3 linked regions of the Homo sapiens genome follow. The protein of the gene in region 2 interacts with the protein of the main gene of each other region in a pairwise test. Each region holds a gene or a part of one and is shown on either strand. Other genes may lie near its edges. The genes, in order: FCHSD2, CFAP36 and SNTB2.

Region 1 (10,933 bases), on a different chromosome or scaffold from region 2:
CTTCTGTTTCCTTATGTAGCCAACATGATCTGATTAATTCTCAATCAGATGAGCAAAAGCCACTTGAAGAAAGATGAGAATCTTTGCCACATCCTTGTGGTCACAGTAATATACTGTACGAGTGCACATGATCAGTAATTTAGGGACTGTGCCCTGGAATGAGGCCTGTTCTTGAGTCTCATATAAAAACAGACCACTGTTAGGCATGAGGGCTGCCCCCCTCTTTGCTCCTAGGGTCCGCTAGGATTTGTGCTATGGTAGGAGAAATGACATAGAAAATGACAACAAAAAAAAAAGGCACGAAATATTCAAAACGTGGGAGGAGTCTACCAGGCCACCCAGTCACACATAATCCTCCTTGTTTTTTGCTCTGTTCAAGAGTCATCATCATGCAAAGGTGCCTAAAAAACAAGACTGGCCAAACTCCAAGCCTGGCCTTGATTGTAGCAGTAATGGATGGGCAAGCCCATCATCACACCAGTGTGATTTCCACATCTTCAATCTTCTCTGCTGGCCTTCGGTGATTCTGTGTAGGTGGAGGGGGAGCTGCCCGGACCTGAGCAGGAAACAATTACGTAGTTTGTCAGTCAGTTCCTGACTCAGTATCTGAAGCATCCCCAAAACCTAATCACTCATCTGTCCAAGGACATGGGCACCCTAGGGGTCTCAGAAATGTTGTGAGCACGTGCTTTCAACCTAGTCTTCACTATTTCCTACACTGAGAAGCAGTTGTTCTCAATGAAATATCAAGCCCACAAATCAGCTTCTTGCCTAGGCTAAAAACCTCATGGGCACAAGTCCTATGACTAAGATCCTAGCACATCCTCCAAAGCAAAGGTCTGGCTGGAAGCAAGGGAGAGCAATGCTTAGAGAAATGAAACATTTCAGTGTGTCTTGGGTAGAGAGTTACAAAAGAGAAGGCTAGAAAGGTAGGCTAGGGTTAAGTTGTGAAGGGCCTTGTTAAACCATGTTTAAACATCTGCTTTAAGAAGAAAAAAATAAATCTGTGCTTTATTCTGTAGGCAAAAGAGGAGTTTTTGGTGGATTTTAAGCAATATCAGATCTGCGAAAAGATGACTCAGGTAACAACTGGAGAAAGGATCAGAGGCAAGCAAGAGTCCAAGTAAGAAGGCAACTTAGGAGACTTTTGTAATCCTCTGAATGAGAGTTGACAATAGCCCAAACGAGGGTACTGGCAGTAGGGGAAGTAGAGAAGTGGAAAGATTTGCGAGCTCTCTGCAAGGTATACCTGGCAGGATTTGGGAATGACTGTGGGAGGCAGGGGCAGGAGGTATTAAGAATGATGCCAGAACACCAGTAGGATGGGGGTTCCATTTACCAAGATAGGCAATATGGGAGAAGGAACATGTCTGGAAGGGAACATAACTCATTTTTGCTGAGTTTTGGGGATCTGGGATATATAAACTGAGATATCCACACATCTGAAGCTCAAGAGAAGAGATCGGATTGGCAGTTATAAATCTGAGACTTGCTGGCATATAAATGGTTATCATAGCTGTGGAAGTAGATGAGGTCATTCGGCAAGAGTGCGTTCAACAACTTCAAGAGAAGCAGCCCAGTGACAGAACCATGAGAATTATCAGCAGAGACAGGTGGCGGCAAGGCTGCAAAGGTCCACAGAAAGGTAGGACCAGAGAGGAAGAAAGCAAACGAGGCAAATGTAGAGAAGCACATCAGCCCACTGCTCTCTCTTCCCACTCTTACCCACCAGTCCATCTTGCCACCACTTCTTTCTTGGATGCTGCTCCAGCCTCCTAATCGCTCCCTATATCCTTTCTGCCACCCTCCATCCATCCGCCTCTTAGCTGCCATAGCGATGCTTTAAAAATGCACCAGCCACAACACTGTCCAGCTTACCACTTTACAATGGCTTCCTGTCTCATTTGGGATAAAGACTCAAGTCCTTAAGAAGGCACTCAATACATATTTGCTGAATGAATGAAGCCAAAAGAAGCCAGTGGTAAAGGAATGGTATCAAAAGCTAATAGGGGTCAAGGAAAATAAAATTGCAAAGTATCCGACTGGATTACCGTGCAAGTTATGACCTTGGAGTACAGTGGTGGGTGGAATGCAGATGGCAGTAGAGTGAAGGGTGAGGAGAGGTAACTTTGCAATAATATATTCACCCGGAGAATAAACGCTCTTTAAGGCCATGAAGTTAGCTTATTATTTCATCTTGGTATTCCTCAAAGAGGCAAATAGAGGCCTGGAAAATTAAATGCTTACTGAAAAAAGTGTTTCACAATTAGCCCGCTTTAATGCTCATAAAGTTTGTTCTATTCTAAATCACTTTCATAGCCATCATCTTGCAATCTCACTGTGGCTCAGTGAAAAAAGTTCCAGTGTAGATTAAATGTCCCGAGATGAGTTGATTTCTATGGCCTTCCTTTTCAATAGCTCTTTTTACCTTCCCAAACCCAGTTCATCCTTGTTTGGCATAGTCAGTAACAACACAGGGGCCACGGGGAAACATTAATTCCTTACTTTCAATTTGGAAGAACTATGCATTCGATAATCCTGCAAGATCAGAGACTTACAGGTCGCAGTTTGCCATATGAGGTCTCAGGAGTATGCCTTGATGCCTGTGAGAATCCTGGTGACTCAGCATGAAGGCTTTTTTCTAAGGGAGAAAACCAAAGAAGCTCATTTTACTTGAGTTGTTGAGCAATAATGCTGATGCAAGGCTGGCATGGTGGCTTGAGCCTGTAATCCCAGCACTTTGGGATACTGAGGCGGGAGGATTACTTGAGGCCAGAAGTTCAAGGCTGCAGTGAGCTATGATCCCACCACTGCACTCCAGCCTGGGTGACAGAATAATACCCTTTGTCCAGAAAAAATACAAAAATTAGCTGTGTGTGGTGGTGCATGCCTGTATTCCTAGCTACTAGGGAGGCTGAGGCAGGAGGATCACTTGAGCCCAGGAATTGGTTGCTATGAGCCGTGATCATGCCACTGAACTCCAGCCTGGGTGTCCAGCCCAGGTGACAGAGACTCTGTCTCCAAAAAAAAAAAAAAAAAAAAAAAAGCAAATGCAGTTTTTTTTTGCCCTTCAGGCGAATATGTAGGTTTCTGAAGTGAAAATGCATTTAGACCCATGCCCAGGAGAACCCTTACCGTTTGCTGAAGGAGACCGGGGAAAGTACAGGGAGCTCCTCTTATCTGGGCTGGGGTAGGGGCTGCTGGGAGGCTGGTCGTACAACGGCAGTGGAGGCAGGGAGGCGTGTGGCTTGGGGGAAGGAGAGATCTGCAGCAAAGGGAAGCGAGGTTACCCGGTGCTCCCCTCCAGGAAGGAGAGCCTGGCTGCTTCTCTGACTGCTCTGTACTCATGCCTTTTCTCTAAAGCTAAGCTGATTGTTGAAACTTGTCAACCTCATTAGAGGCAACTGAGCATTAAATAACCACCTCAAGCTCCAATTTTGCATTGCACTTCACTTTTTCCTCTTACAGATCTCATCACATTACTGATTTTAGTTTATCTTAAACAGTTATCAAGTGAAGCTACTCTCTAGGGTTCTATTGAAAATGTACCAAATTAGTCAATTCAGTAAACTTAGCAAAGAACAACAACAACAAAAGGAACAAGTTGGATTTTTTGGGGTGAAGATAAAATACTTTGCTGAATTTCTGACTTCCCCAGGTTTTGTGCATGTTAGGCTAAGGGGTCACAATCACCACGCAAACAAGATCGGCAAACACGTTCCTTCTTCCTCTACCTGTCTGGCCTGCAGTGATAGATCCCTGAGGGGACAAACTAAACTCTGACTGAATTAGAGGTTCCTTTAAAGGCTGTTTCCCTGTGATGAACTAAGTCTAGGGTCACTTGAGTGGGGATTAGGGGCTCTGGCAGGCTCATTAATTCTCTGAAATAGACTGGCAGGACCTGGACTAGGCAAGGAGGCTCTGACAGTGAGGGAGAGAGAGAGCCAGCTAAGAGTTTTACTACGTAAATTAACCACAGAGCAACGCCTTCCCTCTTCGGTTTGTTTCTTTCTCTCCACCAAAACGATCTTTGGTATGTCACATATAATTTGGCATTTTGGTTAACCAATTCAAGGAAGAGAGAGAATGTGGGAAGATGGAGGTGTGGGAGGATGGCCACATTCCACAAGGGACTGACTGACAAGTCTCTGGTTTCCCAAATGCAGTTGTGCAGACACTGGCAACCAAGGACCGGTGAGGGTAAGGCAGAGACTGCAGCCCACTTTTGTGTGGATCCACAGACCCTTTGGGAGCAATTTTCTTTAAACATCTTTTAATTCAACTGTCTCCCCTCTCAGGTACCTGAATCTCTCTCATCCATGGAGTGTCACCATTTTCTGAGGCTGAAAGTTCTTCCACTAGCACCGATGGGAAAACTCCAATACGCCCATTGAATTCCCCTTCCCAGAAGCCATCATCATCTTGGTTTTCTTTGTTCAAGATACGGATTATTGCTCCCTCAGGAAAAGATAACTCATCATCTGTCTGGCCCTCATAATCATAAAGTGCTTTCACAAAACATACTAGGGAGCAAGAGAAAAACAAATCTGGTAAGATAATTAACAGCCGGTTGCTTTTGCAACCACCCCTATGCTCACATGACAACTAAAAGAGCATCATACAGAATAGGATTAAAGTTGTAATTTTTTTACTCACTGATGAATGATTAACTTTAGGGTTCTACTGTGCAGGACAAACGTGACCATATAAAGAAAAGCATATTATAGGACAGGAGGAAAGTTGTGCTTTTTATCCTACTGAAGGCTTACTCCAGGGCAATACAGTTTAGGTCAAACGTGACCAAATAAAGAGTGCCTTGTTTCAGTCTTTACCACTGGCATCTCCGTTGAGGCTGCCTGAAACGAGTTCTGCTTCCGTGGAATTGCTGGACGTGTGTGACCGACTGTCCAAAGCGGCCAGGGACTGCAGCATGCTCAGGAGGCTGTTCGAGGTGGGAAACTGTAGGTACTTTTCTGGCACATAACCCACTTGGCCAACTTTATTTCGAGCCTGGGTAAAAGACATGTGACAAAACAAGTTTACACACACAATTTAGACAGGGCACAACAAAGACCAAAACAAACTCCTAAAAATGTCACAAGAAAGGGCGATATGAGCAAAGGAATATACCTTTACCCAGTCTTCCATATCTCCATCTTCAATCACTTCTAACACCTCATGTTCCTCAATGGTCAACTCATCTGGTTGAGAAGCCTGCAGTGTAGGATGGTCATGGACAAAATTAAAAAGGTTAGATAAGGAGCAGATGTGAGCTGATCATGACAAAAACTGGGGATCAAAATATTGAAATGATTTTGAGAAACATGTTGAACATAAAAATTTAAATGCTGTAAAACTTTCATAATGAGGTGAAGTTTTACTTTAAAAAACTAAACAGAATAAAACCATAACAAAAACTCAAGAAACTGAATCCTCAAGAGGCAATGACGTTCAATGAACAGAACATGTAAGCCTGGGCAACACAGCGAGACCCCCATCTCTACCAATAAATAAATAAATAAGTAAATAAATAAATAAAATTAGTCAGGCATGGTGGAACATGCCTGTAGTCCCAACTACTTGGGAGGCTGAGGTGGGAGGATCGCTTGAGCCTGGGAGGTTGAGGCTGCAGTGAGCCATGAGTGAGCCACTGCACTCCAGCCTGGGCAACAGAGCGAGACCCTGTCTCTAAAAAAACAAACAAAAAAAGAGAGCACTTCCTGGAAGTAGAGGACCTGGGTTCCAACTCCAGCTTCTGTATCAAGTTATTCAACTTGATGCCTCCATTTCTTTGAAATGACAATCCTGCCATTTTCTGGAGGATGTGAGTCAATGTGGGATGGATAAGCACAGAACTGTGATGATTTGGGAAGCAAAGGCAAACGAGAAGGCACTGAATTGGAACTGCTACCAGAGGGCTCCCATGGACAAGCATGCAGTGAAAATGCAAAGAACTATGTACGTGAATTTGATGATAGTGGGTGCAGTGCCTAGGATTGATCTGGAATCACTGTAAAGCAGTGGCCAAAAGAAAAAAATTGTAGGAAAGGAAATGATTGAGATCAGTCATGGTTTGGATTTCTTATGCTCCAACTTAACTGTGTGGAGACTGAGCTGATCCATTTGCGTGCTACCGTACAAGCTGCTAACCATAATGGTTTTATTATCCCTGACAGCAGCAATCCACCAGCATCAGCCACCCACATGTTGCCCTTGAGACTGCCAAATCTGTAAACGCTCTGAGGCTCCACAGAGGGGCTGGAAAGTCCGTGTGGCTTTGCTTCCTAACAGTCTTGCCTGTCATGTGTAATAGACAGGGGCCTGCTGGCTTCTGGCTCTCTAGAAAACAGTCTTAAAAGCTTTCCCCAAGTCCCAAGATGGGTTAAAACCATCACCTAAAACCATAAAGTTTTTAAAATCTCACAATCTCAAAATGTAAAATTAACTCCAAGTTACACAAACAAAAATAAGGCAAAAAAGGGGTCATTTTCAAGATCAATTTCCCATTTTATGAACATTAAAACATTTCATCAAAATCCAGATTCTGGATGTTGCCATAGCTCCCTGAGACAGAAAAATAATATTGAGGAAAAAACCCCACTCATTTACCCTTGATAGCTTTTCCAATGGAATTCCTTCACTACTCTGAAACCACACTATGCCTTGAATATGCCAGCAAAAGGCATTTTTGTAATAAAAATGTTTTTCATGGCAAGACCTAAAAAGTATCAACACGACCAGACGTTAATGTATGTGACAGCAAACCAGGGAGGTAGTACACTTTTAAATAAACTGCTGCCCTTATAAAAAGCTATGGAGAGGCTGAGTGAGGTGGCTCACGTCTGTAATCCCAGCACTTTGGGAGGCCAAGGTGGGTGGATCACTTGAGGCCAGCAGTTTGAGACCGGCCTGGGCAACATGGCGAAACCCTGTCTCTATGAAAAATACAAAAAATTGGTGGGTGTGGTGGCACGTGCCTGTAATCCCAGCTACTTGGGAGGCTGAGGTGGGAGGATCACTTGAATCAGGGAGGCAGAGGTTGCAGGGAGGCAGAGGTTGCAGTGAGCCGAGATCACACCACTGCACTCCAGCCTGGGTGACAGAGCAAGACCCTGTCTCAAAAAAAAAAAAAAAAAAAAAAAACAACAACAAACAAACAAAAACCATGGAGGTCCATGCAAGTTTTTCAACACTGCAGCACTAGTTGTCCAATGTAAGCAGACACTAGCTTGATCATCCCATCCTAAAGCAGTGATGACCAATTCTTCCACCTAACAAGGTCAAGTTCTTTGCATGGCTATCAAGACCCTGCAGAGTTTGGTCCCTGTGGGCCTCTTGACGCTTTGGCCCCTGCACACTATTTCTATTCTCTGAGCATACCATGTTCTTCCTTGCCTCTGTGCTTTTATAGGTGTTCTTCCGTCCATCAGGCTCTGTTCCCTCTTTCCTATCTGATGAGCAGACTTAGATTACTGTGGGTTTAAGTCCAGCTTCAGTATATTTTTATGGGCAAGTGACTGTAAGATACCTTTGAACCTCAGTTTTCTTTTTTCGTACTAGAATATAAGCTCAATGAGGGCAAAGATTTTTGTCTGTTTTGATCAATGCTATATCCCAGAGCCTAGAAAAGCCCACAGCACTGATACATGGAAGGTGCTCAAGCACTATTTGTTGAATGAATGGGGTGTTTGATAATATCTTCCTCATAGGGTTATTGAAGGGATTACAAATAAATAGATAGATAGATAGATAGATAGATAGATAGATAGATAGATAAGTAGTTACGATTACTTTTGACTTGAGACTGAGCGCATATGTTTTCCCAGACTACTCATGATGAGTAAGCTGCTCCTCCTTTTGCTCTTTTTTTTTTTTTTTTTGAGACGGAGTCTCACAGTGTTGCCCAGGCTGGAGTGCAGTGGTGCCATCTCGGCTCACTGCAACCTCTGCCTCCCAGGTTCAAGAAATTCTCCTGCCTCAGCCTCCCAAGTAGCTGGGATTACAGGTGCACACCACCATGCCTGGCTAATTTTTTGTATTTTTAGTAGAGACGGGGTTTCACCATGTTGGTCAGGCTGGTCTCGAACTCCTGACCTCGCGATTCGCCCGCCTTGGCCCCGCAACGTGCTGGGATTACAGGCGTGAGCTACCGTGCCCAGCCCCCATTTTGTTCTTAAAAGGCTCTCTGAGCGTCCCCATAACACTGACTACCATGATGCTCTAATGAGTTTGTCCTTGTGAGCTTCCTACTAGAAATAATTAGGGACTACATTTCTTCTCACTTACCCCAACTAAAGACAGTGAGCAGTAAATGGTTATTAAATACACACATACTCTCATACTGTCTCCTTAAGTCCTAGTATCCAGTGACAACCAGAGCTCCGTTTCCACCAGTATCTCTCCAAATTTCCTGTATTTCTTTTAAAACAATATGTTTTTCCTGATTATATCATACATGTTCATCGTAGAAAAGCTGGAAAATATGCATAATTGAGCTCTTACGGTACATACAATTTGGTATCCTACCTTTTAATTTAATATTAGGACATAAGGGTTTCTTCTTATATAGAAAAACTCTTGATGAAAATTTCAGTAAGTTTCATAATATTATATGTTATGGCTATAGTATATGAATGTCTAGTTTAATTATTCTCATTGAACTGCCAAATTTAAATTTTTTTAAAATTTATTTTTTAGAGGCAGGGTCTCACTCTGTCACTCAGGCTGGAGTGCAGTGGTGTAATCATGGCTCACTGCAGCCTCGATCTCCTGGGCTCCAGTGATCCTCCTGCCTGAGCCTCCTGAATAGCTAGGACGATAGGCATGTGCCACCATGCTCAGCTAATTTTAAAATTTTTCTGTAGAGACCAGGTTTTTCTTTGTTGCCCAGGCTGGTCTCAAACTCCCGGCTTCAAGTGATCTTCTCGCTTTGGCCCCACAAAGTGTTGGGATTACAGGCATGAGCCATTGCATCCAGTCATGAGCTCTATTATCCTCACTGATGTCTCTATCAGAATGAGGTCAAGGGAAGGATTCATTTGTTCATGCCTTCCATCATTCAAGTATTCATTCCACAATTATTTACTAATGACCTACTACGTGCTGGGCATTGTCCTAGGGGCTGAAGACACACAGACAAGGTAAACATACAGAGACAAAACTTCTCCCTTCATGGACCTTTAGCGGGGAGTCAAAGAAATATGAAAACTAAGATTAAGTTTGGCTGGGCAGAAGTGCCATACATTATAAAGCAGTACTATATGAAAGGACATTTTTGTGTCCAAAACTTTTCTATATTATGATTTACTTCCTTAGGATGGATGCTAATAGGGTCAAAAGTTATGAACATTCTTAAGGCTTTTGACTCTAACCTTTTTTTTTTTTTTTTTTTTGAGACAGAGTCTCGCTCTGTCACCCAGGCTGGAGCGCAATGGTGCGATCTTGGCTCACTGCAACCTCCTCCTCCTGAGTTCAAGTGATTCTCCTGCCTCAGCCTCCCTAGTAGCTGAGATTACAGGCGCCCGCCACCACGCCCAGCTAATTTTTGTATTTTTAGTAGAGATGGGGTTTCACCATGTTGGTTGGGCCAGTCTTGAACTCCTAACCTCAGTGATCCACCTGCCTCATTTTCCCAAAATGTTGGGATTACAGGCGTGAGCCACCATTCCCGGCCAACTCTAACCATTAAATATAGTTTCTTTGTTCTCACCAGATTATTCGAGGCCTCCTTTTTGGTCTGGACTATAAGAATTATGATTAGGCTTAAAGTCAGTCCCTCTGTATCCTAATCTGTCCTCTAGAATATCTATACCATGACCAGGTTAGCTTCTTAAAAGTCCAATCTGATTTCAGGCCATCTAAGGATCTTCCTAGCCAGGATAAAAACCAAACCTCTAAGTCTGGTACCCAAGGCCCTTTACTATCTGACAACAAACACCTTTATGCACAGCCCCTCTGTTCTCCCACTCCTACACCACTGAATTTAACATTTCCTGAACACCCCACACTCTCATCACACTCTGTCTCTATACCTGCTGTTCTCTTTGCTTAGAAGGCTCTTTCCTCTCCCTACCTTCTCACTGCATCTAGAAAGGTCTTAAATCATGACCTACTTTAAATGCCACCTCATCTGTAAAATTTCTCCCAATGATCCAGGTAGAATTAGTGGCTCTACCTTTACTATAAATCTTTTCACACTTGTTCTATTTTCCAGTTTAATATTTAACCCTTCATAGATTGTCCATTCCTAGAGGGGAGAGATGTCATATTCATTCTGGCATCCCCCCAGTGTATCACATATTGGGCACTCTATATGTTTATTCAATGATTAACTGACTAAATAGATGTTCATAGTCTATTTAACGCAGGGATGTGCCTGGGATATGCCAACAGAGGGAATGTTGAATGAATGTGAACTGTTTAAAATCACTCAGACACTTAGGAATCTCTCTATTTAAGGAACTTAAATTTTAGTTCTGGGACGTTCAAGTAAATATAATGGGAGGTGGTATCAGGAAACAATTCCAATGCTAGTTTTATAATACCCTGTAATACCTTTCCAAGTATCTGAGAAGATGATTTTAAATTTTCAAAAGATTATCAAAACGATTTACATTGGAAAAAAATGCTAACACTTTCAATGAACAGGAAGTATTATGAATTTAAATATAAAATGAAAGGATGTTAAACTCAAAACAAGTCTGGGAATCACTGATATTGAGGTTACCAAACACTGCCACCTTTTGGCTACACAGGGATGTGGCGGAGGAGTGAATCTGGTGCATGACAGGTGGATTCTCTCTCCAGGACCTTCCCTTCTGATAGCCTTCCGCATTGCCCCTTCTCACACATGCCTCCACCAGAACAGGGGCAAGAGAAGATTCATGTATTCACGCCTCCCTTCCAACATTCATGTAGTCATCCCACAATTATC
Region 2 (10,933 bases):
GGTCACTTCTCTTAAACACCAACACCCAGTGGTGGCATCTCCTTCAACAGGCTCAATCGATTATTCCCTTTGCCTGTGTTTTAGTAAGAGTTTGTCTAGAAAGAGTGAGTATTTTTTACATCCCGCACATCTATTTTCCAAGTCCTATTTGCTCCTGCCTCGTATAAGTGTAAATGATAAATGTAAAATCTACCTTACCACTGCCCAAGTTATCTCTACCCTTGATTGGACTGTCTCATACATGGTACACCCACAACTACTCTACCTCATACAGCAATAAAAATGAAAATTTTGATCATTTAACTTCCCTGCTTTAATTTTTTTTTTCCTTTTTTTTGAGACGGTCTCACTGTGTCATCCAGGCTGGAGTGGAGTGCTGTGATCATAGCTCACTGCAGCCTTGACCTCCGGGGCTCTGGTGATCCTAGCACCTCAGCCTCCCAGGTAACTGGGACTACAGGTATATGCCACCATGCCTAGCTAATTTTTTGTATTTTTAGTAGATACAGGGTTTTGCCATGTTGCCCAGGCTGATCTCAAACTCCTGGGCTCAAGCAATCTGTCCACCTCGGCCTCCCAAAGTGCTGGGATTACAGTGTCAGCCACCGTGCCTGGCCCCTGCATTAAAATTTTTCAATGACTTGACACTGCTGGTATTACAAAATTTAAAATCCAGAGCTGGGATTGTGCAACTGCACGCCAGCCTGGGCAGCAGAGCAAGATCCTGTCTCTAAAATAATTTTTAAAAAAATTAAATCCTCACATTCCCTGTAAGACTCTGCACTGTCAGTCCCCCACCTGTCTCCAATTTCATATGCTAACCGTCTCCACTCATATATATACTCCAGTTTTTCAGTATATGCTTTATTTCCTGCTGCAGAACCTGAACTGTTCCTTACCTATTCTTTGTGTAATTAACCTTCCATTCAGCTTAAAGAGGCTTAGCCAGCCCTGCTCATAGGACACTACACTTTGCCTTTCTAACAGTTTCGTCTTTGGGCCCTCTCCACTAGCCCCATGAAGGCAGTGACCCTGTCAATCTAGTTGACTCCTGTATCCTTAGTGCTTAGCACAATGCCTGGCACAAACAGTAGGTAACCGAGTTTGAATGAATGAACATACTATCAACTAGTTTCCTTCTATACCCTCTTTCCAAGGGAAAACATCCAGGAATTTGTATTAAACTAATCAGTATGAGTAGCTGCCTTCCCTACTGTCCTTTACCTAAAGTGTTTAAGATATTTGGATTTACAAAAGTGTTCGAAACTAAAAGGCTCAGTGTAAGGACTAAATAATTTATTTTTAAGACAATTTGAACTTCCATTTTGTTAAATTGTTCTTAATTATTACTTATTAATAACTTCTTCTTTGAGTTTCTCTGCAAGCAATCTCCTCTTTAGTAATGTTTGCTTCTCCTCTGCTGTCATTTCTGGTTTCTCTGTCATTTCCTGAAAAAAAAAGAAAAAATTGGCTACAGTATGAAATAGGGTAATTTGTCTAAAATTCCCAACATACTGCCTCAAATGAACAAAAATCGGGGGCACCTTCTTGTGGGACGGAGGGAGAGACAGACATAGACTAGGTTTCCTAAATCTCTTCTTCGTAAAGTCTCTTCTTGGAGAACCCCTCTGGGAAGTGGTGGCTGATGTGCTCTATGATAAAGGTGGTACTGATGCTGCTCTATGATAAAACATTTCAGAATGCCCAGGTGAAACAGACCACCAACCCTGACATACTCAGAGAAGGGCAAGTAAAGAAACAGCATAAGAAAAAAATGTATAATGACACCGCTATTTTCTGCCTCAAAAAATCCTTATCACAACAATTTCACTTCCTAGAAAAGACTTAGCAGCTACTGCACTAGGAGGTGATTAATATGAATGGGTCTGCAAGCAAAATTTATTAGAGGCTTTCTTGCACATATTCTGATTTTGATAGTTCCACCACCAGATTTGTAAATCTTGACATATTAAGGCTAGCCATACCTCTACCTCCCCAGTGGGTTTTCCTTTCTGCTCCATATTTTGTATCTGTTTAGTCCTCATATCCTTTCTCATGGACATCAACTTATCTCTCTTCTGCTTGAGATAGTGTTCTCGTTGCCGAAGTTCTTCTGTTCCAAGTACTGATAAGTTCTGGGTCAAGTAAGAAAAGGAGCTATCTAAATTCAAATCCATTTAGTAAGTAGCACAGATGCCCACTGAGTGATTCAATTCGAAGTTTGATTTCCCAGTACCTTGTCATTTTGCTTATAGTTCTTAAGTGATGTCGTTTACTTACTGCTATTGGTCCTTCAATGCTCGCATGCTCTAAGCCAGGAATCTTCAGGTCTTTTTGTGGGAGGGAGGAAGTTTCAGACCTTTCCACTTTTCTTCCCAAAGGTTCTATTGACTGATTAGCAAAATGCATTTTAACTTCTGGCAATAAGTAGACAATAAGAGCAATTAGAATATTATGAGAAATATTTTAAGTGTTAGGCTAGGTTTACCGAAATGAGCTAATGTTAATAATACTTGTTTTTCCTCATAGTCATTCAGTCAACATATATTCAGTGCCTATACTGTGCCAGCCACTGGGTAAGAACAGTAAACATCATGTCTCTATCCTTAAGGAGCTTGGAACTACAGTTTCTCACCTACTTCTCAACAAGTACCATGCTTCTGCTGTTTGTACAGTACTATAGCTACAAAAAGCTAAAATCCTTGTCTAAAGATTAGAACTACACTATAATATAAGATTGCCACATAATCCAAATAAACAGTATACTAATCCCTTACTACAATGTAATTGGTTTCCAAACTTTTGCTTGCATGTAAAAAGTCACCCTATACTTTCAGAACAATTAATGTAAAACTATAATTTTTTGTATTGCAAGAGTGCATGCCAGTAATGTCAATAATTTTTGTTTATAATTATGTATTGAAGATAACTATAAACCTGCCAGTGCATTATGAAAATGTAAAGATTTCTAAAGCAAGCAGAACTTGGAAGCACATATAAACATGAGCACTAAATACTTTCCAGCCATTTGGTGACTGTGCCAACCAAGAGAGAGAGTTAACATTCTAATTGCTCCTCTGAGCCATTTTTTATTATAAGGTGATTGTTTTTAAAAAGATAAAACATTTTCAGTGTAAATACATGGGCTATGAAAGAAAGCACACTGAGACAAGCAAAGACATTAAAATGATGCTAAGATCTAAAAGCATGATGGGAAAACATGGCACACATGTCTAAATGATTAAAATTTTTGCCACACCTGGTTGATCCTGCCAGTTAAAAAAAAAAAATACCTTGCCAGCATACATACTAAAACAGAAAACAGAATTTTGTCTGTGCAAGAAACTTGACAACAGACCACTCCTCTAGCAGTGACCAGACTGACTACAGTGCCAGAGAGGTTGAAGGAAGAAAAGCTCTCCAGACCCTTGGACAATAAGGGAAATCTCCATGGAAAAGATAAGCTGTAACCAGCACTCCAAACCAACCTAGACAGGGAGCTACATAACTAACAGAAATAAAGATAGAGGTAAAACACCGCTGTTATTACTGAGAGTGACGTTAGCAGAGGTAGGCTTAGCCCTCAGTGGACTCACAGAACTGGAGAAGGGACAGTTCAAATAATTCCTGAGGAGGGGGGAACCCATACATATAAGCATTTATATTCCACTCATGTTCTTTCTCTGGACAGTTCTTGCCTTGGGTTTGTTAATTATGAACATACGTATATTCTCAGGCCTAGAAAGGAAAGTACTTGAAGCCAAATACTTAGCTTCTCTAATTTCTAGGAAGGGAAGATCAGAAAGCCAGAAAACCTAAAGAAAGATCATCTCATCTCTGGCAAATCTGCATCAATCTGAGAAAAGACACTATCCATTGCTGGCAGGAATGAGGGAAAGACAGGCAAAAGGACAAAGCAGAAGCTCAAACAACTTCATGATTCTTCCAAACTCAGGTCTTCATACTGGGCTTCCATCACTTTGTACGAAGTGATTCTCTGAAATATCAGATATGCGCATTTGAAAAAAATTATTTTAAAAATTGAAATCATTACTTTTGAGATCTACCATTTATGGTGTACCATTAATGTGTACAACTGAATTATATGTGGTTTGAGATCAAGTTTTCTATAGCTTCACTTAGATAAGAAAGCAGACAAAGCAAATTTATTCAATTTATGTTAGACACAAGATTTAAATAGTGTATGTACTTAGGTGTATATAAAACAAAGTTAATTTGGGTCAGCAAACTAGAGCACAGACAAACCTAAAGCAGGAGCTTTCATATATATCATTAAAATGAGGCTATTTCTCCTTACAATCTGTAGCATATATATAAAAAAGAAATGGTTTGACTTGGTACAAAGAAGCAAGGTAACTTCACAGATCTGCTTCTGATTCAATATACTCCTGTTTTTCTGTCAAATAAGAATCTAACTCCTTAAAATTAATGGGTGCTCTCAGTAAACTAGGAATAGAGAGGAACTTCCTCAACTTCATAAAGAGTACGAAAAACTCTAAAACTTAACACAATACTTAATGGTGAGAAATTAGAAGGTTTCTCACTAAGATCAGAAACAAGGCAAAAATGTCCCCTCTCTCACCTTTCTGATTCAACATCATACTAGAAGTCCTACCTAATCCACTAGGACAAGAAAAGGAAATAAAAGGTACACTGATTGGGAAGGAATAAATAAAAATGTCTTTATTTGCAGAACACATGATCATCTATGTAGAAAATGCAAAACAATTGACAGAAAAACTGAAATGAATAATTATATAGCAAGGTTACAGGATACAAATTAATAACAGTTTATCACTTTCCTTTATACCAGTAATGAATAAATGGAATTTAAAATTAAAAATACCATTTACATTAGCACAGCACCCCTAAAAATGAAATACTTAGATATAAAATATAACAAAATATGCACAAGATCTATATGAGGAAAACTACAAAATTCTAATGAAAGAAATCAAAGAACTAAATAAATGGAGAAATATTCCATGGTTTTTATTTTATTTTATTTTGAGATGAAGTTTCGCTCTTGTTGCCCAGGCTGGAGTGCAATGGCACGATCTTGGCTCACTGCAACCTCTTCCTCCCGGGTTCAAGCGATTCTCCTGCCTCAGCCTCCCGAGTAGCTAGCATTACAGGAACTTGCCACGATGCCCAGCTAATTTTTTGTATTTTTTGTAGAGATGGAGTTTCACCATGTTGGCCACACTGGTCGCAAACTCCTGACCTCAAGTGATCCACCACCTCGGCCTCCCAAATTGCTGGGATGACAGGTGTGAGCCACTACTCCTGGCCTTTTTTTTATTTTTTTATTTTATTTTTTTGAGACAGGGTCTCACTCTATCACCTAGGCTGGAGTGCAGTGATGCAATCTCAACTCACTGCAACATCCACCTCGTGGGCTCAAGCAATTCTCCTGCCTCAGCCTCCCTAGAGGCTGGGACTACAGGCGTGCACCACCATGCCTGGCTAATTTTTGTATTTTTTTTGTAAAGACAGGGTTTCGCCAAATTGCCCAGGCTGGTTTTGAACTCCTGAGCTCGAACAGTTTTCCCGCCTTGGCCTCCCAAAATGCTAGGATTACAGGCATGAGCCACCATGCCCGGCCTATTCCATGTTTATGGACAGGAAAACTCAATGTCAAGATGTCAGTTCTTCCCAACATGATCTACAGATTCAATACAATATCAATCAAAATTTCAGCAAGTTATTTTGTGGATACTGACAAACAGATTCTAACATTTATATGGAGAGGCAAAACACCCAGAATAGCCAACACAATATTGAAGAACAAAATTGGAGGACTGACACTACCCAACTTGGAGACTTCAAACTACAGTAATCAAGAGAGTGTGGTATTTGCAAAAGAATGGAGAAATAGATCAACAGAACATAATAGAGAGCCCAGAAATAAACTCACATAAATATAATCAATTTATCTTTGACAAAGGAGCAAAGGCAATACGGTGAGGAAAGGAAAATGGACATCTGAAAGAAAAAATATGAATCTAGACACAAACTTTACACCCTTCACAAAAAATAATTCAAAATAGATCACAGACCTAAATGTAAAATGTAAAACTATAAAAATCCTAGAAGATAACATAGGAGGAAATTTAGGTGACCTTGGGTATGGTGATGACTTTTTTGATACAACACCAAAGGCACACCCTATGAAAGACATAATTAATAAGCTGAACTTCATTAAAATTTCTGCTATGTAAAAGACAGTATCAAGAGGATGAGAAGACAAGCCACAGACTGGAAGAAAATATTTTCAGAAGACACATCTGATAAAGGACTGTTATTCAAAATATACAAAGAACACTTAAAATTCAACAATAAGAAAATGAACCCAATTAACAAAAAGAAAACAAACAACCCAACAAATATAATGGGTCAAAAACCTTAACAGACTCATCACCAAAGAAGATACATAGATGACAAGCATATGAAAAGATGCTCCACATCATGTCATCAGGGAAATGCAAATAAAACAACAATGAGATACCACTACACACCTACTAGAATACTCCAAATCCAGAACACTGACAACACCAAATGCTGGCAAGGATGCAACAAGAACGCTCATTCACTGCTATGGAAATGCAAAATGGTATAGCCGCTTTAGAACACAGTTTGGCACTTTCTTACAAAACTAAACATACTCTTACTGTAAGATATAACAATCATGCTCATTGGTATTTACCCAAAGGAGCTGAAAGCTATGTCCAAACAAAAACCTGCACACTGATGTTTATAGCAGCTTTATTCATAATTGTCAAAACTTGGAAGCAACCAAGATTTTCTTCAGCAGATAAATGAATAAACAAACCGTGGCACATCCAGACAATGGAATATTATTCAGCACTAAAAAGAAATGAGCTACAAAGCCATGACAAGACATGGAGAAATCTTAAATGGATTATTACTAAGTGAAAGAAGCCAATCTGAAAAGGCTACGTACTACTGTATGATTTCAACTATATGACATTCTAGAAAAGGCAAAACTGTGGAAACAGTAAAAGATCAGTGGTTGCCATGGGCTAGGAGGTGGGAAGGATGAATAGGCAGAGCACAAAGAATTTTTAGGGCAATGAAACTGTATACTACATGATACTATAATGGTGAATGCATGTCATCATACATTTGTCAAAATCCACAGAATATACAATAGCAAGAGTGAACCCTAATGTAAACTATGCTCTTTGGTTGGTAATGTTGTGTCAAGGAAGGTTCACCAACGTAACAAATGTACTACTTTTGAGGGGGTCGATAATGGGAGAGGCTAGGCATGTACTAGGGCAGGGACTATATGGGGGAAATCTCTGTACCTTCTGCTCAATTTTACTGTGAACCTAAAACAGCTTAAATTAGGCATATTAAAGAAAGGTGTTCTCCAACTTACATTAAAAAATTAATGGGTAAACATCACACTAATCTCAATTATAGAAGTTCTTCTAAACTAAGGTTTAGAAGAATATATTTAGTGTCAGAAGACCAAGGTAAGTCATAATTTCACCATTGAAGAGTTCGGTGATCTTGGACAAGTCGCTCAGCTTCCTTGAATTTCTTTAAAAAAAAAAAAAAGAAGGGATGGGTACAGTGGCTCATGCCTATAATCCTAGTGCTTTGGGAGGCTGAGGCAGGAGGATCACTTGAGGCCAGGAGTTTGAGACCCAGCCTGGGCAACACAGCAACACCCGACTCAACAAAAATAATTTTTTTAAAAAAGATAAGAGTAGCCAGGCACAGTGGCTCATGCCTGTAATCCCAGCACTTTGGGAGGCCAAGGCAAGCAGATCACCTAAGGTTGGGAGTTCGAGACCAGCCTGACCAACATGTAGAAACCCCATCTCTACTAAATATATAAAATTAGCTGGGCGTGGTGGTGCCTGCCTGTAATCCCAGCTACTCAGGAGGCTAAGGCAGGAGAATCACTTGAACCCAGGAAGTGGAGGTTATGGTGAGCCGAGATCACACCATTGCACTCTAGCCTGGGCAACAACAGCAAAACTCTGACTCAAAAAAAAAAAAAAAAGATAAAAGAAAAACAAGGATTATAATATCTACCTCACAGAGTATATTTTTTTAATTGAGAAAAGGACATTTATTTAAAACCATAGGAATCCATAATAAAATGAACTGAATTCATGACCATAATTTCTGTTTCAGAATTACTTGTTTTCTTATATAGAAAATCAGTTCATATTGAGAATAGATTTGCCACATGTTGAAAAGGTCATCCACTAGTATTTCCTACAAGGATTCCTATAAATTTTGATTTCAAAGATATGATTTCTGACCAAATATCTGGACAAAATGGCTACCTCTTATTTTCTAGCTGTACTTAATTCATTGGAAAAGAAATTTAATATTATCTTTCCAAGTTCAGCTTCTCACTAACAAATACCATACAACTGTAAGCATGGAAGAGAATACCAAATGTTATGTGAACCTCTCTTGTAAGCTGCAGTCATGCACAAAGGCTAGTTACTCCCTCAAGGAGTTTTGCTCTCTACTCTGGGTTCCAGGCTTTACACGGAAACTTGAGGACTATACGCTCTCTTTCAGGTCAGTATCTCGTCTGCAACCTCTTTAACCAAATTCACAAAGAACGTTAAATACCAAAGACATTCAATACTCCCTCCCAGGGCTTTTGAAGTTAAATAAGTATGAGAAAGTGGCACATTCTATATGGTGTTTATGTATTCATATTATTAGAGAAAGTTCAGTACACCTCAACCTTACCTGAGGGTGGGTGTGCAAAATGTTCACCATCCCCTTGGGAATTATTCATTATTGCAGCTTCACTGGAATGCACTGTGGGCTCTTCTGTTTTAGCCTCTGATAACTTCAGGATTCCATAATACAATTTTTTAAAAAACACACAATTTAGATTCATTTTAACTAATTCACTACCTAAAGGATCCAAAGATATTATAGTTTTCTTTTTTTTTTCTTTTGAGACAGAGTCTCACTCTGTCACCCAGACTGGAGTGCAGTAGTGTGATCCTGACTCACTGCAACCTCCGGCTCCTGGATTTAAATGATTCTCATGCCTGAGCCACCTGAGTAGCTGGGATTACAGGTGTGCACTACCACGCTCGGCTAATTGTTGCATTTTTAGTAGAGATGGGGTTTTGCCATGTTGCTGGTCTCGAATTCCTGGCCTCAAGTGATCCACCCACCTCAGCCTCTCAAAGTGCTGGGATTACAGGAGTGAGCCACCACGTCTGGCCTCTTTAAAAGAAAGTATAAAGTATACACTCTTATAAGAAAGTATATACTTTTGGCCGGGCACAGTGGCTCATGTCTGTAATCCCAACATTTTGGGAGGCCAAGGCCAGCAGATCACCTGAGGTCAGGAGTTCGAGACCGGTCTGGCCAACATGGTGAAACCCTGTCTACTAAAAGTACAAAAATTAGCCAAGAGTGGTGGCAGGCACCTATAATCCCAGCTACTGGGGAGGCTGAGGCACGAGAATCGCTTGAGCCTGGGAGGCAGAGGTTGCAGTGAGCCAAGATCACGCCACTGCACTCTAGCCTGGGCAATACAACAAGACTCAGTCTCAAAAAAAAAGTATATACTTTATATATTAAGAAGTATAAAAAGTTGGCCAGGCACAGTGGCAGGCAGGTGGATCACATGAGGTCAGGAGTTCAAGAGCAGCTTGGCCAACATGGTGAAACCCTGTCTCTACTGAAAATACAAAAAATTAGCTGGGCGTGGTGGTACACGCCTGTAATCCCACCTACTTGGGAGGCTGAGGCAGGAGAATCACTTGAACCTGGGAAGCAGAGGTTGCAGTGAGCCGAGATTGCGCCACTGCACTCCAGCCCAGGTGTCAGAGTGAGACTGTCTCCAAAAAAATAAATAAATAAAAGAGTATAAAAGGTTGTTCTGGCCGGGCATGGTGGCTCACACCTGTAATCCCAGCACTTTGGGAGGCCGAGGCGGGCAGATCACGAGGTCAGGAGTTTAAGACCAGCCTGATCAACGTGGTGAAACCCCGTCTCTACTAAAAATACAAAAATTAGCCAGGCGTGATGGCGCACGCTTGTAATCCCAGCTACTCTGGAGGCTGAGGCAGGAGAATCGCTTGAACCCCGGAGGCAGAGGTTGCAGTGAGCCAAGATCACACCACTGCACTCCAGCCTGGGTGACAGAATGAGACTCAATCTCAAAAAAAAAAAAAAAATGTTGTTCTGTGAGTTACCAGGACAAAAATAAAGAAGGAGAAAAAAGTATAAAAAGTTAAAAACAAATGCTTAAACTTGCCAAAAAAAATGACTACTCTTGCTTATATGCATGTCCTGTAAGATTAATTAGTACTATGTGGTGTTTGTACTATATACAGTTAAGTATATATAGTACTATATAATATGGTGGCCAGCAGTAATGCACGACATACATAGAATTATTGATATATTAATATTATTGGTCAATATTTACATTGTACTTAAAATTATGTAGTTCCACATAAGTATAAATTTTAATAGTAAGATCTAGGTGTAAACTTAATAAGAGATAACAGCAATAAAATACTTCTGTTATATGTTCTGTAGGCACCTGTTTTTTCCTCTTCCTTTCTTCTTCCTGGTCATATTCCTCTTTTGATTTTCTGAAATATACAAAAATAAGATAAAAAGATAAATTTCCTTTTTTGGTCAAAGAACAAATATTCAACTAAGCAACATGCTAACCTAAGCTTACAATAAAAGGCACATTAGACACAAAGATGGAAGATAATCAAGCCTTGCTCTAAAGTGGCTTACAGTCAACTGGGAAAGACATACATAGGCATACAGCATAATACAGTTAGTAACACAAAATACAGGTCTACCCATTTCTTCTAGAACTCTGAATGAACCCTAGCTGAATAAAGATCAACAGATTTGAAATCCTGAACCC
Region 3 (10,933 bases), on a different chromosome or scaffold from region 2:
CACCCAGACTGGAGTGCAGAGGCGCAATCTCGGCTCACTACAACCTCTGCCTCCCAGGTTCAAGCAATTCTCCTGCCTTGGCCTTCCAAGTAGCTGGGATTACAGGTGCCTGCCACCATGCCTGGCTGTTTTGTATTTTTAGTGGAGACAGGGTTTCACCATATTAGCCAGGCTGGTCTTGAACTCCTGAACTGAAGTAATCCACCTGCCTCCGTCTCCCAAAGTGCTGGGATTACAGGCGTGAGCCACCTCGCCCAGCCCAAATTAAATTCTTACTTTATGAAAAGAATATAAAATTCCTTTAAAGATCAAGCTGTGTTGCACTTAGATGATTCAACATACACACAACCTTCCAGAAATAAACCTATATGTAGCACAAAGTAATTTCTACAATGTCTTGAACTTTTAAAACAAAGCCAACAATTTAAATACATCAGATTATAATTTTCAAAATGTGTTTACATAGTAGTCAGTTAAGACTTTTCTTAAGAGACAGGATATTGTTCTGTCACCCAGGCTACAGTGCAGTGGCACAATCCTAGCTCACTGCAGCCTTGAACTCTTGGGTTCAAGTGATCCTCCCACCTCAGCCTCCCAAGTAGCTAGGACTACAGGTGCATGCCAGTATGCCTGGCTAATTTTTTTTTAAAAAATCCTGTAGAGGCGAGGTCTCACTGTGTTGCCCAAGTTGGTCTTAAACTTCTGGCTTTTAAGCAATTCTCTAACCCTGGCCTCCCAAAGTGCTAGGATTACAGATGTGAGCCATTGTGCCCAGCAGAGTTAAGACTTTTTAAACATACTATTTCTTGAGAACCTACTATATGTGCTTGGCTCTGTGAAAGGGCCTTTATAGGTACTATCTCATTTAATCTGCACACTAAGTACCATTATCCCTTTTTTTAAAGATGATGACATGGTGGTGTATGGAAGTGAAGGGACTTGCTCAGAACCCTACTTTGAGCAGGTGACCTAGTTGGGATTCAAACCAAGGTCTGTCTGACTGCAGAGCTCAGTTCATTCCAGCAAACCACATAATATACTACAGAGCAGAAGCTTTAAAGCCTTAAACACCCAAGGAGGCCATTCAGTTTCTTGGTGTCTTCTGTGCTCCATTCCATCCTGATCAGGGACCTGGCTGTGCATTAAGATCAGAGGAGACCATAATAGTGAAAACACATTATAAAAAGTCTGTCCTTAACTATGTCTTTGGGCAAGTTATTTTCATCTTATTTTTTCCACTAATCTCTAACCTAACATTCGGTCTACCAGTGCCACTTCATTGAGTTAATGAAGACAAAGTTATAGAACACATATGATTATAGAACTAGGAGGGACATCAGAAATTATCCAATCTAATTTTCTCATTTTGCAAATGAGGAAACTGAGGTCAAGGGAAGCTAACTTGCCAGAGTCACACTGCTGGTTGATTCAGCCAGAACCATAATGCAGACCTCTAACTCTATACTACCTACAGTATAAGGAATTTCCATCTAAGGAGATATTTAAAAATTTATCTTTAACAAGACTTCTTTTTTTTTTTTAATATATATATATATTTTTTTTATTATACTTTAAGTTTTAGGGTACATGTGCACATTGTGCAGGTTAGTTACATATATATACATGTGCCATGCTGGTGCGCTGCACCCACTAACTCGTCATCTAGCATTAGGTATATCTCCCAATGCTATCCCTCCCCCCTCCCCCCACCCCACCACAGTCCCCAGAGTGTGATATTCCCCTTCCTGTGTCCATGTGATCTCATTGTTCAATTCCCACCTATGAGTGAGAAATGGATAAATTCCTCGACACATACACTCTCCCAAGACTAAACCAGGAAGAAGTTGAATCTCTGAATAGACCAATAACAGGAGCTGAAATTGTGGCAATAATCAATAGTTTACCAACCAAAAAGAGTCCAGGACCAGATGGATTCACAGCCGAATTCTACCAGAGGTACAAGGAGGAACTGGTACCATTCCTTCTGAAACTATTCCAATCAACAGAAAAAGAGGGAATCCTCCCTAACTCATTTTATGAGGCCAGCATCATTCTGATACCAAAGCCGGGCAGAGACACAACCAAAAAAGAGAATTTTAGACCAATATCCTTGATGAACATTGATGCAAAAATCCTCAATAAAATACTGGCAAAACGAATCCAGCAGCACATCAAAAAGCTTATCCACCATAATCAAGTGGGCTTCATCCCTGGGATGCAAGGCTGGTTCAATATACGCAAATCAATACATGTAATCCAGCATATAAACAGAGCCAAAGACAAAAACCACATGATTATCTCAATAGATGCAGAAAAAGCCTTCAACAAAATTCAACAACCCTTCATGCTAAAAACTCTCAATAAATTAGGTATTGATGGGATGTATTTCAAAATAATAAGAGCTATCTATGACAAACCCACAGCCAATATCATACTGAATGGACTTCTTTCAATTATAAAGTAATACATATTCATAGTGAAAAAAGTAATAACAACATTACAGAAAGACATAAAAGGAAGAAAAGATGCCCCCTCTTTCTTTCACCCCTTTAGTCTTATTTGACACCCTAGAGGTAAAGCCATTAACAGTTTCTTGTGTGTCTGTTCAAAATTTTTTCTACACATATACATGTATATATGTAGAATAACTTAAAATGTGGAACCCCAAAAATGCATCTCTCACCTCAGACAGATGTTTTCCTCTGTATAACTGAGTTAACAGAGTCATATAATACTGCAACATGTCCTTAAGTTTGTAAAGCTGTAGGTATGATGTTCTTGTTAGGTACACCTCACCTGTTTTCCAGATCCGGCATGCTTAGGTTTCTAGCAGCAAAGCACATTTTGAGAGGGATGATCTTCCTGTCCTTGGTGCTGTTCTGGTGTTTTGGCGAACCAGAGTCCTCACTGCCACTAAAGCTTGGTGACTGGGGGGCTGCACCTTCCCACGGCAGATCTGATACTAATGATGGCTTCTTGATATATGGTGTTACTTCTCGGATGAACTTGACTATGAACAAAAAAATCAAAGAAGAAGGTTAGTAATTTTGCTTCCTATAATAAATGATAACTAAAGTATTCACATACATGCTATATCTATAACAAAGTGGAGGAAAGAGCTGGGCGCGGTGGCTCACTCCTGTAATCCCAGCACTTTGGGAGGCCGAGGCGGGTGGATCACTTGAGGTCAGGAGTTCAAGGCCAGCCTGGTCAACGTAGTGAAACCCCATCTCTACCAAAAATACAAAAAATTAGGTGAGCGTGGTGGCATGCGCCTGTAGTCCCAACTACTCAGGAAGCTGAGGCAGGAGAATTGCTTGAACCCGGGAGGCGGTGGCTGCAGTGAGATTGTGCCACTGCACTCCAGCCTGGGCGACAGAGCAAGACTCTGCCTCAAAAACAAACAAACAAACAAACAAACAAAAAATGGGGGAAAAAAGTAAGTTAAAGAGCCATGAATCCCCTGGAGATAGATTCTAAGACAGACCCATCTAGGCTTTAGATGATTCAACCTTTAGAAACTTCTCCATACTTCTACCCACTGGTTCCCTGTCTTCTCAAGCCATATAGAACAAACTTAATCTCTCTTCTACATGAGAACTCTGTAATTATCTGAAGACAGATTTTTCTCTTCTCTCTCCTCCCCATACTAAGCTAAGTATTTCTATTTCCATTCAACTCAATCAACTTTTATTAGCTACCTACCAAGTGTTGGGAATTAGGCTAGCCAGTAAAGACACAAGGGCAAATGAGCCATGGATTCTATCCCTCAAGGAATGCCCAGCCTTGCAGGGGAGACAGCTATGTAAACAGGCCATTACAGTTCTTAAAATCAAGTGCAAAAATAAAGTATATTCAAGATAAGGTATGATCTAATAAGCACAAAGCCAACTCAACTGATCCCCCTTGCTTGTTCAAAATACTCTATTTCCATTAATGTGGCCCCAAATGAAAATCAAGCTTTTAGTAGATAGGAAGCTTTTTTAAGTTCAAATTTAAAACTCATAAAATACTTGTTTTACTTCAGTCATGACTACAATTACTGTCACTCGAGGCATGGTGTTCTTGTTTCAAAAACTAGACAAACTGGCTGGGCACAGTGGTACACACAGTTTCTCCTGTGAATAGGTAATACATGCACATAAAACAAAACTCAAGAGGTATAAAAGGTTTTATAATAAAAGTCCAGATTTCTAGCTACCCTGTCTCCATTCCTAGAGGCAACCATTCAAAGAGATGCCTGGTATGCTAAGCATGTATGAAAATAAACACATACACATGCGTGTATATCTGATCATACATATGGTGGTACATTATGCTTACCGTGCTGCACCTTAGTTTTTTTATTTAATAAGGTTGATAGTCTTTTATAGGCCTAATAGTTGATAGCTCATTCTACAGCATGATGTGGTCATAGAGATGCCTTTGGAATCAAGAAGACCTTGTTCAAATCCTAACTGTGCTTGCTATTCAAAGCTATGTGACCGCACTTAACTGTTCTGAGGTCCTCATCTACAAAATGGGAGTAACACTAAGCAAATAAAAATTTCAGGCACATACTAAACATTCAATAAATACAGTAGGTACCTTTCTTTTTCCTTCCCTAAATTAGAAAGTTAGAGAAGAGTTAAAAAATTTTAATGGTAATCAGTAGAAGAGTTAAAGTTATTTTCTTATACGTTATTAAAAAAGATTTACTGAAATTAAGTATAATAATAAAAAATATAACAATTCCAATGCTAGAATTTAGATGTAGTATATCTCTGTGCTTTTTGTGCATAGTTATAATACACGTGCTTCTGGGTAGCTGCCTCAGGTCACCAAGGAGATTTTTTTACCCTAGAAAAATCAGCAGGAGTGCAGTCAGTATAACCCTTGAGCAGCTGACTCAAGCATTTCAATACATACTTCAGCTTTATGCTTTGAAGGACTTTGGCAGAAATTCCTAAGGTTTCCAGTTACTGCAAATGGCAGAGGCATGCTTTTTGAACATTTAAGGCAGTACACTATTGGGCTACCAACTGGAGGAAATTAAAGACATTCTAAATGAATTCTTGAATAATATAGTGGTTAGAAAAGAACCCTTAACGATCTACTCAGTTCATTCAATCACACAGTAGCATCACTGAACTGATTACTACACACATCCTAAAACAAAAACAGACATACACATACAATTTATGTATTGCCTTATTAAAAGAGCAATGAATTTTATCTGAGTTGATGGCAATGCAGTCCATACCCCCATCTAATTAGCCATCCAGAATGGCTGAAGAGCTGTGGATGGACATCTGTTTCTATGTTTGGGAATGGCAAAAAGTTAACAGTCTTCTGTTTCAGTCCTATGTTAAGGCCTTAACCTGGACACGTGGCTGGATAAGCAGAGCCTTTACACCCCCACATGGAGCTTTCAGTTCAACTCAGAATCCACAACATATTTCAGAATCATTTCATTTTTCCTGATAGTTGAAGATAATCCTCAAAATAATTTAATTAAACACTGATGTTTACAAACTGTTTTGAGTGTTCAGATGCTGAAGCTAATTTTCTTTCTTCCATTCATGTATCCCTTTTTTTTTTTTTTTTTTTTTAAGATGCAGTCTCACTCTGTCGCCCAGGCTGGAGTGCAGTGGCACAATCTCAGCTCACTGCAAACTCTGCCTCCTGGGTTCACGCCATTCTCCTGCCTTAGCCTCCCCAGTAACTGGGACTACAGGCGCCCGCCACCACGCCCGGCTAATTTTTTGTATTTTTAGTAGAGACGGGGTTTCACCGTGCTAGCCAGGATGGTCTCGATCTCCAGACCTCGTGATCCACCCGCCTTGGCCTCCCAAAGTGCTGGGATAACAGGCTTGAGCCACTATGCCCGGCCTCACGTATCCCTTTTACTGAACGTGAAGGTGGGCTTCCTCCCACCCCAAAAGCATTACTGTGATCCCTTCTCTTCTTTAGAGTGACAAAAACACATACATGTACTGCACACATGTACCTGTAAAGATGTCTGGAAGGAACTTAATCAAAATATCAATAGTGCTTATATACAGGTGTAGGATTGCATTTTTTTCTTTATGTTGTTCTGTATATTTAAAATTTTTGTTAAGTCCATAGTATTTATTTTAAAAACGTATTTAAGAAATGAAGAAAACTTATTCTGAGACCTTGTTCAAACTCTATCTTAATTTTATTTTTGAGACAGGGTCTCACTCTGTCCCTCAGGTTGCAGGGCAGTGGCACAATCATAGCTCACTGTAACCTCAAATTCTTGGGTTCAAGTGATCCTGCCTCAGCCTCCTGAGTAGCTGCAACTATAGGCACACACCGACACATCTGGCTAACTTTTTAATTTTTTGTAGAGACAAGGTCTTGCTATTTTGCCCAGGCTGATCTCAAACTCCTGGCTTCAAGCAACCCTCCCGCCTTAGCCTCTCAAAGCGTTGGGATTACAAGCATGAGCCACCACCCAGCCTGTTGCTCAAACTTTAAACATGAAAGACATGTAAACGGAAATCTTGAGGCTTCAAAAACTATAATGCACTGGATAGGATCCAAAATCCAACTGATTCTTACTGAATTCTAAGCTCTAATGAATAAGGTTATGAAGAGTTCCATGTTTGGGGCATGAGGCAGCATCTGATTTTAAACTGAATGCAAGTGGCTTCTTTTTTTTTTTTTTTTTTTTTTTTGAGACAAGGTCTGGCTCTATCACCCAGGTTGAAGTGCAGTGGCATGATCTCAGCTCACTGCAACCTCCGCCTCCTGGGCTCAAACCATCCTCCCATCTTAGCCTCCTGAGTGGCTGAGACTACAGGTGCACACCACCATACCCACCTAATTTTTGTACTTTTAGTAGAGACAGGGTTTTGCCATTTGCCCAGGCTGGTCTCTAATTGGTGAGCTCAAACAATCCACCCGCCTTGGCCTCCCAAAGGGCTGGGATTATAGGTATGAGCCACTGCACCCCACCTGTTAAGTGGCTTTTTTTTTTTTAGTAGAGACGGGGTTTCACCATGTTGGCCAGACTGCTTGCCAACTCCTGACCTCAAGTGATCTGCCCACCTCGGAGTCTCCCAAAGTGCTGGGATTACAGGCTTGAGCCACCACGCCCACCCTGGCTTTTTAAAGCTTATCTAGGCTGGTGCTGAGCATGGTGGCTCACACCTGTAATCCCAGCACTTTGGGAGGCCGAGGTGGGTGGATCACGAGGTCAGGAGTTCAAGACCAGTCTGGCCAAGATGGTGAAACCCCATCTCTACTAAAAAATATAAAAATTTGCCGGGTGCGGTGGCAGGCACCTGTAATCCCAGCTACTGGGGAGGCTGAGGCAGGAGAATTGCTTGAACCCAGGTGGCAGAGGTTGCAGTGAGCTGAGATTGTGCCACTGCACTCCAGCCTGGGCTAGAAAGTGAGGCTCCATCACAAAAAAAAAAAAAAAAAAAAAAAAAAGCTTATCCAGGCCGGGCACGGTGGCTCATACCTGTAATCCCAGCACTTTGGGAGGCCAAGGCGAGTGGATCACTTGAGGTCAGGAGTTCAAGACCAGCCTGGCCAACATGGCGAAAGTCCATCTCTACTAAAAATACAAAATTAGCCAGGTGTGGTGGCGGGCACCTGTAATCCCAGCTACTTAGGAGGCTGAGGCAGGAGAACTGCTTGAACCCGGGAGGCAGAGGTTACAGTGAGCCAAGGTCATGCTATTGCACTCCAGCCTGGACAACAAGAGCAAAACTCCATCTCAAACAAACAAACAAATAAACAAAACGAAACGAAACAAAAACCTTATCCAAAAAGGATACATAATAGGGCAGACACAGCCTACGGCTGCAAACACACATATTTGGATAAATGGATCAACCTCTTTTATAAACATCAACTTCTCATATAATCGTTATGTTCCTTTTTATCTCTAACTCTTACCTTTTCCATGCCCCAACTGGTGATCTTTACTATGAGTTTAAGTGAAACTAAGTTAGTCACACAACATTATTTCCCCTGCTTTTGCAAGCAAGTTTGTTCCTGGATTATTCTCAGAGTGGAATATCTGGCTGTGCATTTTGCACAGGAATGAGTTATGTTGACAGTCACTGTTAAAGTATTCTCTCAGGAGGATTCTCTCCAACCTCATCCCAAGCTCTTCTCTCAAGTCAGGAGGCTGATAAATGACCACCAAAAACACGAGGAAGGAATTGCTTTGCTTTGAGTAAAAAGCCTTTTACATTCTCAACTTGCAGGTGTCTTTCAGCTCAAGTCTCCTGGCCATTTGGGGTTTGAGTAGACTGCAGTCTAGAGTCTGGTGACATGAACCTTGAATGAGTTCAGAGTGACTCTTTCACTCTTCCTCTTCATTCTAAAATAACATAGCAAATTCACTAATTTATTGAGCTCCTACTATATACCAGGAACTGTTTTAGGCATGTAGAATTATTAGCCAGTGAATAAAATATGCAAAAAATAATAATGTAATTAATAATTTAATGAAATTCTAGAGAAATGAAAACTTACATTCACACAAAAGCCTGTACACTAATGTTCTTAGCAGCTCTATTCGTAAGTACCACAGCTGGAAACAACCCAAATTTCCTTCAATGGAAGTGAATGGATAAACTGTGATACAGCTATAGAATAGAACACTATTCAGAAATAAAAAGGAACAAACTATTTATAACTCAGTAACTTGGATGAATCTGAAAGGCATTATACCAGTCTCAAAAGTTGTATGACCCCATTATTGAAAAGAAAAAAATATATGATGAAAAATTCAGTGGTTTCTAGCCAGGCGTCGTGGCTCATGCCTGTAATCCCAGCACTTTGAGAGGCTAAAGTGAGCAGATCACTTGAGGTTAGGAGTTCAAGACCAGCCTGGCCAACATGGTGAAACCCCACCTCTGCTAAAAAAACAAAAATTAGCCAGGCATAGTGGTGCACGCCTGTAAGCCCAGCTACTCAGGAGGCTGAGGCAGGAGGCTTGAACCCAGGAGGCAGAGGTTGCAGTGAGCTGAGATTGCGCCACTGCACTCCAGCCTGGGCAACAGAGCGAGACCCTGCCTTGACTAAATAAATAAATAAATAAATAAATAAAAATAAATTCAGTGGTTTCTAAGGGTTAGGGGTGAGAAGGGATATGATTATAAAGGGATAGCACAACAGAGTTTTCTGAAACCATGGAATGGTCCTGTATCCTGATTGTGGTGACAGTTACAAGAATTTATGTATGTGTCCAGATTCATAGAACTGTATACCTTAAGGGGAAAAAATTCAATTGTACAGTATGATAATTACAAAATAAAATAAGTAAATTATACAGTATATTGGAAGATGTTAAGTGTAATGGGAAAATGAAACACAGCAAGGGAAGGGGTCAGAAATGCTGCCCAGGGTGTCAGTTTGTAAATTTTAAATATGGTAGTTAGGGTAAGCCATTAATAAGATGTTTGAACAAAGACTTTAGGAGATGGGGGAGTTGGCCATGCAAATATCTGGGAGAAACATTCCAGCCAGGGAGACAGTGTTAGGACAGTAACAGGAGTTACTAACAGGAGTGTTAGACAGTAAGGAGACCCAGAGTAACTGGAGCTGGGTAAGTGAGGGGGACAGAGTAGTAAATGGGGTCACAAAGGTAACGGGGCTGGGAGGCAGACCATGTACGGCCTTTTAGGTCATGGCAAGGACTTTGGCTTTTATTCTGAAACAGGAAGCTATTGGGAGATTTTCAGGAGCAAGTGACCACTATGTTGAAAATAGAATAAAAGAAGGCCAAGGCAAAAGCAGGAAGACCAGCTGGCAGGTTAACAGGGATGAGAGATGATAGGAGTTGGACCAGGGGAATAGTAGTGGAGGTGGTGAGAAGTGGTCAGATTCTACATCAGATTACATAAGGGGGTGGCAAAAAGAAGAGTCAAGGATAATGTCAAGATTTTTGTCCCGAACAAGGCTAGAAGGATAGCGTTCCCCTTGACAGCTTTAGAAGAAAGATCAGGAACTTGAGACATACATTAGACAATCAAGTCTAACAGGCAGCTAGATATATAAGTCTGCAGTTCAGGAAATGGGTGTAGGCTAAAAACATAAATTTGGGAGCTATTAGCATATAGTTGCTATTTAATGCCATGAAACTGGATAAGATCACTGTATCAGTCAGGATCCCAGCAGGAAACGATAGTAAGGGATTTAATAAAGGGACAACTTATGAAGATGTGGGCAGAGTGCAGGGAAACCACATGGAAAAATAGAGTGTAGTATCCCATGGCTATTAGCTGTTTCCACATGTAGGCCTGAAGGAAATAGGAAAGAGAGTGGGTACCAAACCCAGAAGAAAAGAGCCCTATAGAGACCGATGTGAGAGGAGCAGTGACTTTCAGTCAATTCAGCCAGATTGCACTGACCTGCGAATTGGGGGCCAAGGGGATAAATGCTCCAACCTCACCCTCCTCCTTCTTTCCCTCCAATGTCCTATTGGGGCTCTACATTGGCCAAACCCAACAAAAACCAAAGGCCAAGGAAGTCTGCTGATGTTGTCCACGCAGGTCAGCGTCCGGGACAGATGGCATGTAGAGAAGGAGCGGACCTAGAAGAGCCAATGGAAGACTTCCAGCACAAGCAAGGAAGTGAGTACGGAAGAGAAAGCAGACACTCCACTATTAAAGGGCTGGGGAGAAAAGAAGGAGGTAGGCAGAAGATCCACGAAACACAAGTGCTCCATAGAAATACTGGCTTAACAGGCATGGTGGCTCATGCCGGTAATCCCAGCACTTTGGGAGGCCGAGGCAGGAGGATCACCTGAGGTCGGGAGTTCAAGACCAGCCTGACCACATGGAGAAACTCCGTCTCTACTCAAAAAATACAAAATTAGCCAGGCATGGTGGCACATGCCTGTAATCCCAGCTACTCGGGAGGCTGAGGCAGGAGAATCACTTGAACCGGGGAGGCGGAGGTTGCA

What was found.
Region 1: the proteins of CFAP36 (region 2) and FCHSD2 interact in a two-hybrid assay, tested with the Homo sapiens proteins (one study listed by BioGRID and IntAct).
Region 3: the proteins of CFAP36 (region 2) and SNTB2 interact in binary tests that used the Homo sapiens proteins (3 or more experiments, as listed by UniProt).

What each region holds. Positions count from the first base shown.
Region 1 is NC_000011.10:72,838,319-72,849,251, forward strand, and holds part of FCHSD2 (F-BAR and double SH3 domains protein 2), read right to left. Parts: intron 5,423-10,933; exon of another isoform or gene 5,215-5,422; coding exon 5,131-5,214; exon of another isoform or gene 5,011-5,130; coding exon 4,833-5,010; exon of another isoform or gene 4,524-4,832; coding exon 4,303-4,523; coding exon of another isoform or gene 4,299-4,302; intron 3,266-4,298; coding exon 3,136-3,265; intron 2,642-3,135; coding exon 2,559-2,641; intron 557-2,558; coding exon 473-556; 3' UTR 1-472. UniProt on the Homo sapiens protein: Adapter protein that plays a role in endocytosis via clathrin-coated pits. Contributes to the internalization of cell surface receptors, such as integrin ITGB1 and transferrin receptor.
Region 2 is NC_000002.12:55,535,422-55,546,354, reverse strand, and holds the end of CFAP36 (cilia- and flagella-associated protein 36), read right to left. Parts: intron 10,644-10,933; coding exon 10,592-10,643; intron 8,873-10,591; coding exon 8,770-8,872; intron 2,418-8,769; coding exon 2,281-2,417; intron 2,136-2,280; coding exon 1,986-2,135; intron 1,449-1,985; coding exon 1,347-1,448; 3' UTR 1,276-1,346; downstream 1-1,275. UniProt on the Homo sapiens protein: May act as an effector for ARL3.
Region 3 is NC_000016.10:69,237,679-69,248,611, reverse strand, and holds part of SNTB2 (beta-2-syntrophin), read right to left. Parts: intron 3,011-10,933; coding exon 2,797-3,010; intron 1-2,796. UniProt on the Homo sapiens protein: Adapter protein that binds to and probably organizes the subcellular localization of a variety of membrane proteins. May link various receptors to the actin cytoskeleton and the dystrophin glycoprotein complex.